2 linked regions of the Homo sapiens genome follow. The protein of the gene in region 1 purifies or fractionates together with the protein of each later gene. This does not show direct contact. Each region holds a gene or a part of one and is shown in the gene's direction. Other genes may lie near its edges. The genes, in order: LAPTM5 and EPB41L5.

Region 1 (3,821 bases):
GCCACGCTCTATTGAGTCATGAGGGCGTTATTACATGAGGGAAGCCTGGTCCGTAGCTTTGGGCTCGGGCATCTTCCTCAGGATGTCAGTGGGTTTGTGTAGAGGATTCTCTGGGTCACCCAAACTTGCACACTTTGGGAACCCAGCAAACTTTCTTTCTTTTTTTAAAAAATCTATTCTTTTTTTCAAAGTTCAGTAACTTGCCCATCTTTTGTGGTTTGATTTGTTTTGTTTTGTTTTTGTTTTTAAGAGATGGGGTCTTGCTCTGTCACCCAGGCTGGAATGCAGTGGTGCCATCACAGCTCACTGCAGCCTTGAACTCCTGGGTTCAAGAGATCCTCCCACCTCAGCTTCCTGAGTAGCTAGGATCACAGGCGCATGCCACCATGGCCAGCTAATTTTAAATATTTTTTTTTGTAGAGACAGGGTCCCACTATGTTGCCCAGGCTGGTCTCAAACCCTTGGCCTCAAGTGATTCTCCTGCCTTGGCCTCCCAACGCGCTGGGATTACAGGCATGAGCCACCGAGCCCAGTCTAGAGAAATTTCTTAAATTGGGTCTCTTGGGTCCTGGCTTTTTGTCAACCTGAAGCACGTTCTAAGTCGATGGTAGAAAGTGGACACCCCCAGAAGACACTTTTGCCCAGAAATCTCTTTCTTCCTGACCCCTCTTCCCCAGAGTGCCCGGAATTCCACTGTCAGAAATGCATTGTCTGGGTTAAAAAACTTAACACCTGCTATGATTTCAACAGTGTCAAAACAGGATACGTCAAAACTGGGCGAGGAGGAAATGTATTTGGGTTCTAGGATAGTGAAAGCTCTATTTTTTCTACTTTTCTGTATTTTCCATATTTGGTACAATGAGCACGTACTTAGAACGGTTTTAGATTTACGAAAATATTGCAAACACAGTACAGATAGTTCTTGCGTCCCCCATGCCTAGTTCCTCTATTGCTAACGTCTCAACGTTAGTGTGGTGCGTTTGTTGCAATGGGTGAATGAATATTCGTGGGCTGTTATTAAAGTCAGTGCTTCACCCCTATTTCCCCAGCTTTCCTCTTACATCCTTTTTCTGTTCCAAGATTGCATCCAGGATGCCGCGTTACATTTAGTCTTCACACTTCCTTAGGTTCCTCTTGGTATGATGGTTTCTCAGATTTTTCTTGTTTTTGATAATCTTGACAGTTCGAGGAGTATTTGTCAGGCATTTTGTCAAATGTTCTTCAACTGGGGTCTCTGGTGGTTTTCTCATGATTAGTCTGGGAATGTGCTTTTGGGAGGAAGACCACAGAGATGATGTGCCAGTCTCAGAACATCGTACTAAGAAAAGGTTCTGCCAACTTGACTTACCACTGTTGCTGGTGACTTTGAGCCCCCGGCTGAGGTTACTCCTTTGTAAAGTTACTCTTTTTTTCTCCTTTCCATGCTGTATGTTTTAGAAGGAAGTCACTATGCTGCTCCAAGCAACTCAAGTTTGATGAATGGGGAGTTCCGCCCCACCTCCTTGAGGGCAGAGTAGCTACATAAATTACTTGGAATTTCTCAAGGAGATTTGTCTGTACTCCCAGTTTATTATATAAATAAATGATTTATTTATATTACAGGGACCCAGGGATCTTTACTGTATGCTTTGGGTTATAATCCAATGGTACTTTACTTTGTGGCTCAAGTATACTACTTTTAAATTGGAAAAAAAAAAAAGTACGGCCAGGTGCGGTGGCTCATGCCTGTAATCCCAGCATTTTGGGAGGTTGAGGCGGGTGGATCACTTGAGGTCAGGACAAAACCCTGTCTTTACTAAAAATACAAAAAATTAGCTGGGCATGATGGCGGGAGCCTGTAGTCCAAGCTACGCGGGAGGCTGAGGCAGGAGAATTGCTTGAACCTGGGAGGTGGAGGTTGCAGTGAGCCGAGATCGCGCCACTGCGCTCTAGCCTGACAGAGTGAGACTCTTTAAAAAAAAAAAAGGTAAAGCATTCAAATCATAGTATTTGAAGAAGGAGTCTCTATTGCCCTGACCTCGTGCAGGTAAGTTCACCCATGTGCCCAGCCCCAGGCCGGGATACAGCCCTGACTCATTCACGGCCTCTGCCCTTGAGGGGCCAGTCTGCCAAGGAAAAACCGACGAGGACAATGGATGACATTGCTGGCTATGATGGGGGCACAGATGTAGGGCTGGAGGTTGGGATTCTGGAATAGCTTCTTGGAGGAGGTCTGAGTCTTAAGGATGAGTAGGGCTTTGCTTGGGCACCTTGGAAAAGAGGTCACGCTGGGCGGGGGGAGTAGCATGACACAGGCTTGGAGGGGAAGGACCCTGCAGTGCTTCAGAGACCTAGCAGGTTTGTCAAGCTGGGTTAGGAGGGGTGGCCACGAGGTGTGTCGGGGAGGAGGGTGGAGAGGTCCCCAGGGGTGGGACCTGCCCGAGTCCTTTGCTTTTACAAGCTTCAGAGCTAAGAAGATGGATCTCTCTTCGGCCTATCAGCTCATTTTGCAGATGGGAAAACAGGTCCAGCAGGGCCCCTTACTTGCTCCAGGACACATGGAGAGATGGGGCAGGAGCTTGCTTCAGGTCCCCCTGCTGGCACACAGGTGTGTGGAATGATCCAGAAAGTGGGCAAATGAGTTCCTTCCCTGCCCCATGGCTGGGGTGGTGTGTCTGTCTGGGAGGCCCTGCCCTCATCCAGCCTCCCACCATTCATTTCTTCTTTATGGTCCAGTTTACGGGAAGCTTCCTCCTCCAGGAAGCTCTCCTGATTTGTCCTCCTTAGAACTCCTGGGGCTCTTTTCTCTGCTCCACTTTGGGGGCAGTGATTTGTGATTGAAAGGAACACAGGCCCATCTCCATTACTTACCAGCAGTGTGACTTGAGCAGGCGGGCACCTTTGTTATCTGAGCCTTGCCTTCCTCATCTGTAAATGGGGCCAGTGGTCCCTGCCTCAAAAGTGATCATTTGGAGGAGACCCTAGCGAAGCCGGGTGGAGGGCTAGCAGGTGAGTGCCTGAAGTGGGCTGTGGAAGAAGAACACAAGGCCCCCCGCCCCTTTTTTTTGAGACTGAGTCTTGCTCTATCACCCAGGCTGGAGTGCAGTGGCGTGATCCTGGCTCACTGCAACCTCTGCCTCCCGGGTTCAAGTGATTCTTGTGCCTCAGCCTCCCAAGTAGCTGGAATCACAGGTGTGTGCCATCATGCCCGGCTAAGTTTTGTATCGTTAGGAGAGATGGGGTTTCACCATGTTGGCCAGGCTGGTCTTGAACTCCTGACCTCAAGTGATCCACCAGCCTCAGCCTCCCAAAGTGCTGGGATTATAGGCGTGGGCCATAGTGCCTGGCCCCACTCCTCTGTTGAAAGTTCATCTGTTTGGGGTTGAAAAATGGGTCCAAACTGCCAGGTGGGGAAAACCCTGGGTGAGAATCTGTTAGAACTTGCCACCTTTATGTCCAGTGCCCCTGGGCTGGACAGAGAGGCCACGTTCTCTGCCACTGCAGCTCTGTGCGCTTCACGGAGGGGTGAGGAGGCCGGTGGGGGCAGGGTGGGAGTTGTAGCCCCTCCTCAGTGTCAGAACTGAGTTGTTCTCCTCACCTCAGGGGTGTGAACCCCAGCTTCTAAAAGCAGGAGGCCCCCATGGCCCATCCCACCCAGAGAGTGGCTGAAGGGCCTAGCCTGGCCTGGCCGAGACTTCTCTGTTGCCAACCTGGCCCCGAGGCCTCCAGGAAGTGAGGCTTTTATTTTGAGCCTAGAGCATCAGCCTGGAACCAGGACTTCGCTCTGAGCTCACTGTGAGGCGAGCGTTGGTTTCCCAGGGGACCCCACCCTGCCAAGGGAA
Region 2 (3,821 bases), on another chromosome or scaffold:
TCATTTATCCCTCTGCATAATTTTTTACATATGCCTCTATTTACTTGACCATTTCTCTTTTTTTGGACGTTTAGGGTTTGTACCAAGTTTTACTATTATAAATGAGACTGAGGAAATATACATCTTCATATATAACTTTTGATGTTTAGGAAATAATTTTCCCCAGAGAGGCAGTATAACTTAGTTGTTAGAGGTGTATGTAGATTCTGGAGCAAGACTAATGTTTAAGTTCATTTCCGGTTTTCTTTCTTAATAGCTTTGTGATTTTGGGCTTAATTTCTTTGAGCCTCAGTTTCCTTATCTATGAAATGGGGCTAATGATAGTATCTACTCATTGAGATAATTTATGTGAAATCCTTAGAAAAATTTCTATATGAATGTTAACTATTATAATTAGACTCATGGCAGTGTGATTACTATGACAAAAATGTGAGCATTTTTAGGGCTGTTGATGCATACTGCCAGATCTGATATGATTCCTCAAATTATAATTATACAGTTATCCCAAATAATGGCAGATAAAATCTCATTTTATGTCTCTCTCACAAATGAGATCATGTAAGTAGAGGGGAATAACTCCTAGGAATAATTTTGTATTGGCTGATAAAATGAGCAACTTGATTTCAGCTCTGCCCTTATTATGTTGATACTATAAAGAGTGTCTGAATTTCAGGGAGCACACTAGATCCTTTATTCATGGATGTGTTTGTATCTCAGAAATAGGAGATAGGACTGTTTGAATTAGTAATCATCCTTTTATATATACTTTTCTTTTTCAGGGCAAAGAACAGGAACATACATTTGTCTTTAGACTGGATCATCCAAAAGCATGCAAACATTTATGGAAATGTGCTGTGGAGCATCATGCTTTCTTCCGCCTTCGAGGCCCCGTCCAAAAGAGTTCTCATCGATCAGGATTTATTCGACTAGGATCACGATTTAGATATAGGTTAATTTTAATTGCTGTTTTATCTGTCTTTCATTGCATACAGGCCAAAAAATTTAGGCCAATCTTCTCTTTTTTACAGATATGGTAACTAAGGTATAGAGGAATAAGGTGGTTTGCCAGAGTCTTCCATTGGCCAAAATAAAATAGAAAAAGTGGTATTGTTATTGGTTATAATTTCTTGAATAGATGCGTAAACAGTAATTGTATAATGGCTTTTATATCCCTCTGGATGTTTACTTTATATATTAACCCACTCCCAGTTTATCTATTTAACAAGAGTTTTATGGACTCTCCACCCACCACTGGATACCATATAGAAAAGGGTTTCTTGCACTGAATGGGATATTAGTCTGGATAACATTTGTGGTCCTTTATAAACCTGAAGGTCATTATTCTCATGACTCCTTGTTTGTTGTCATGAGTTAGAAATGTTTTGGTTTACTGCAGAGTGGATTATTGGTTGTGAGTTTTCTGCATGCCATGGAAATCAGTTAAAGAAGGAATGGATTGTACCAATAATGTGGCCAGTTGATTGTGTGGAGTTAATAGAAGTAGTACTGTAGTCTACTTATATTAAAAGTAAGGAGGCATTTTCTAAACAGAATTTAAATGGAAATCAAGGAGAATAAGACAGTAGTCTTAAAAAACATTTCTGGAAAATTATACTGAAAAGTGAATATCACAATTAGAAAAAGTAACTGAAAATATTCTTTTAATTACACACTTTGCACTGAGGAATGTAGATGGGAAAGAGAGGGAGTTTCCATAAAAGGACAGATATTTCAAACTTATTTAATGTGTACTTAGGTGATATGCATGCATATGAGAAAAATAAAACCAACATAATCTGTTGCATATTTCACAAAAGCCGAAAGAATGATATGGTAAAGAGAGAGATCGAGACTATTAGTAGCTGTTCCTGTGCGATGAAGTTTAGGATGATTCTTTTAAGGAGAACCTGAATGTGGACTGTCTTATTTGTGTGTGTTTATTACTGTAGACCTAAAATTTCCCTTACTTCTGTTATGCCTCATTTAGTGGGAAAACAGAGTATCAGACCACAAAAACCAATAAAGCAAGAAGATCAACATCCTTTGAAAGAAGGCCCAGCAAACGATATTCTAGACGAACTCTACAAATGAAAGGTGAAGTGCAACCCTCTTTCAAAGGATTATTTTTCCTTGGCAATTAATTATGTGCTGGTGTTGTTTCCATAAGAGGAAGTTACCTGAATCTCCTCCTCAGGTCTGTTCCAGTCAACTAAAGTACTTTTCTGGCAGAATCAATTTCATGGGATACACAGAGAAAAATTGCCTGTATTGTTAGCAGAGATTAAACTTTATGTTAATCCCAATTCAAATGATAGTCTGAGGTTATGTTCAGTTTTTGTATACAAAACTGTTTCTGTAGAGCAACATATTCTCTCCCTTTTTGACTTACAGATCTCATTCTAAAACATCCCTTAATCCCCTTAGGAATTTTTAAAAACATTTTTATTTATTTATTTATTTATTTATTTATTTATTTATTTTGAGATAGTCTCACTCTGTTGCTCAGGTTGGAGTGCAGTGGCATGATCTCAGCTCACTGCAACCTCCACCTCCCAGATTCAAGTGATTCTCATGTCTCAGCCACCTGAGTAGCTGGGATTACAGGCATGCGCCACCACTCCTGACTCATTTTTGTATTTTTAGTAGAGATGGGGTTTTGCCATGTTGGCTGGGCTGGTCTTGAACTCCTGACCTCAAGTGATCCACCCACCTTGGCCTCCCGAATCCTAAAAGGATTACAGGCATGCCTGGCCAAAACATTGTCTTGTGATGAATTTTTTTTAAGTAAAATTTATTTCATATTGTATTATAATATTAAGGATTGTATTAAATACCATTTTAAAATATATTCATCATTGTTATACATAGACATTTCCTAATTCATAATTGTTACTTGCTGATTAAGATCAGTTATATAAGAAAAAGCACTATTTACCTTGACAAATAAATTAAACCTTGTGTTTGGTTTTAAACTGAATTTGCATTAAAATGAATTTGCATTAAAATGCAAATTTAATTTTAAGTATTTCCACTGTCAGAGTCATCACCAGTTGTCCAAAAACAGCTGTAATGATCTGATGTTTGGCAGTATTGACTTTTTTATAAAAATGATTTATACTCATAAGTTTTGGTGTGGCTGTAAATTAAATATACAGCTATAAATGAATTGTGATGATTTTAAAACCCTAAGTTTCCTCTTGGTTTCCACTGATGATAATTCATAATCAGTCAGCTCACTCTGGAGGCTTACAGATTGGTTCTGTTTAAAAGGAGGAGATATATATGCATTGTATTGCTTTATTTGAAAAATGAAAATAATTGCCATTGTTGCCTCTATGGTGTGAATCCCAAAACACTTTGGTGAATTGAAGGTTTTTAGATTTATGGTTGGGGCCAAATGTGGTGGCTCACACCTTTAATCCCAGCACTTTGGGAGGCCAAGGTGGGAGGATTGCTTGAGCCCAAAAGCTCAACTCTTAGGAGTTTGAGACCAGCCTGGGCAACAGTAGTGAGACCCACCCCTATCTCTACAAAATCATGAAAGACCCTTTCTCAAAGAAATAAATTTATGGTTGTGAAACATGGCTTGTAAAGCAATTAGTTAAAGTTTTGCTTTGAATAGTGCAGCAGTTTATCATGTAAGATGAAACTAATGAGGTGTTATCTTTTTTCTTCTGTTAGCATGTGCTACAAAACCTGAAGAACTTAGGTAAGTAATGTTTTGCAACTTAGGAATTGGTATAGAATTTGGGATTTATGTAGTTGCTATCATTAAACAAATATTTAAGACCTATCAAAATGTCAAGTTGTCCGTAAAGCAC

What was found.
Region 2: the proteins of LAPTM5 (region 1) and EPB41L5 purify together in Homo sapiens (affinity purification with mass spectrometry, with the first as the bait; one study listed by BioGRID). This does not show direct contact.

Annotation. Positions count from the first base shown.
Region 1 is NC_000001.11:30,750,964-30,754,784, reverse strand, and holds part of LAPTM5 (lysosomal-associated transmembrane protein 5), read left to right. Parts: intron 1-2,424; exon of another isoform or gene 2,425-3,821. UniProt on the Homo sapiens protein: May have a special functional role during embryogenesis and in adult hematopoietic cells.
Region 2 is NC_000002.12:120,089,568-120,093,388, forward strand, and holds part of EPB41L5 (band 4.1-like protein 5), read left to right. Parts: intron 1-779; coding exon 780-949; intron 950-1,987; coding exon 1,988-2,094; intron 2,095-3,681; coding exon 3,682-3,709; intron 3,710-3,821. UniProt on the Homo sapiens protein: Plays a role in the formation and organization of tight junctions during the establishment of polarity in epithelial cells.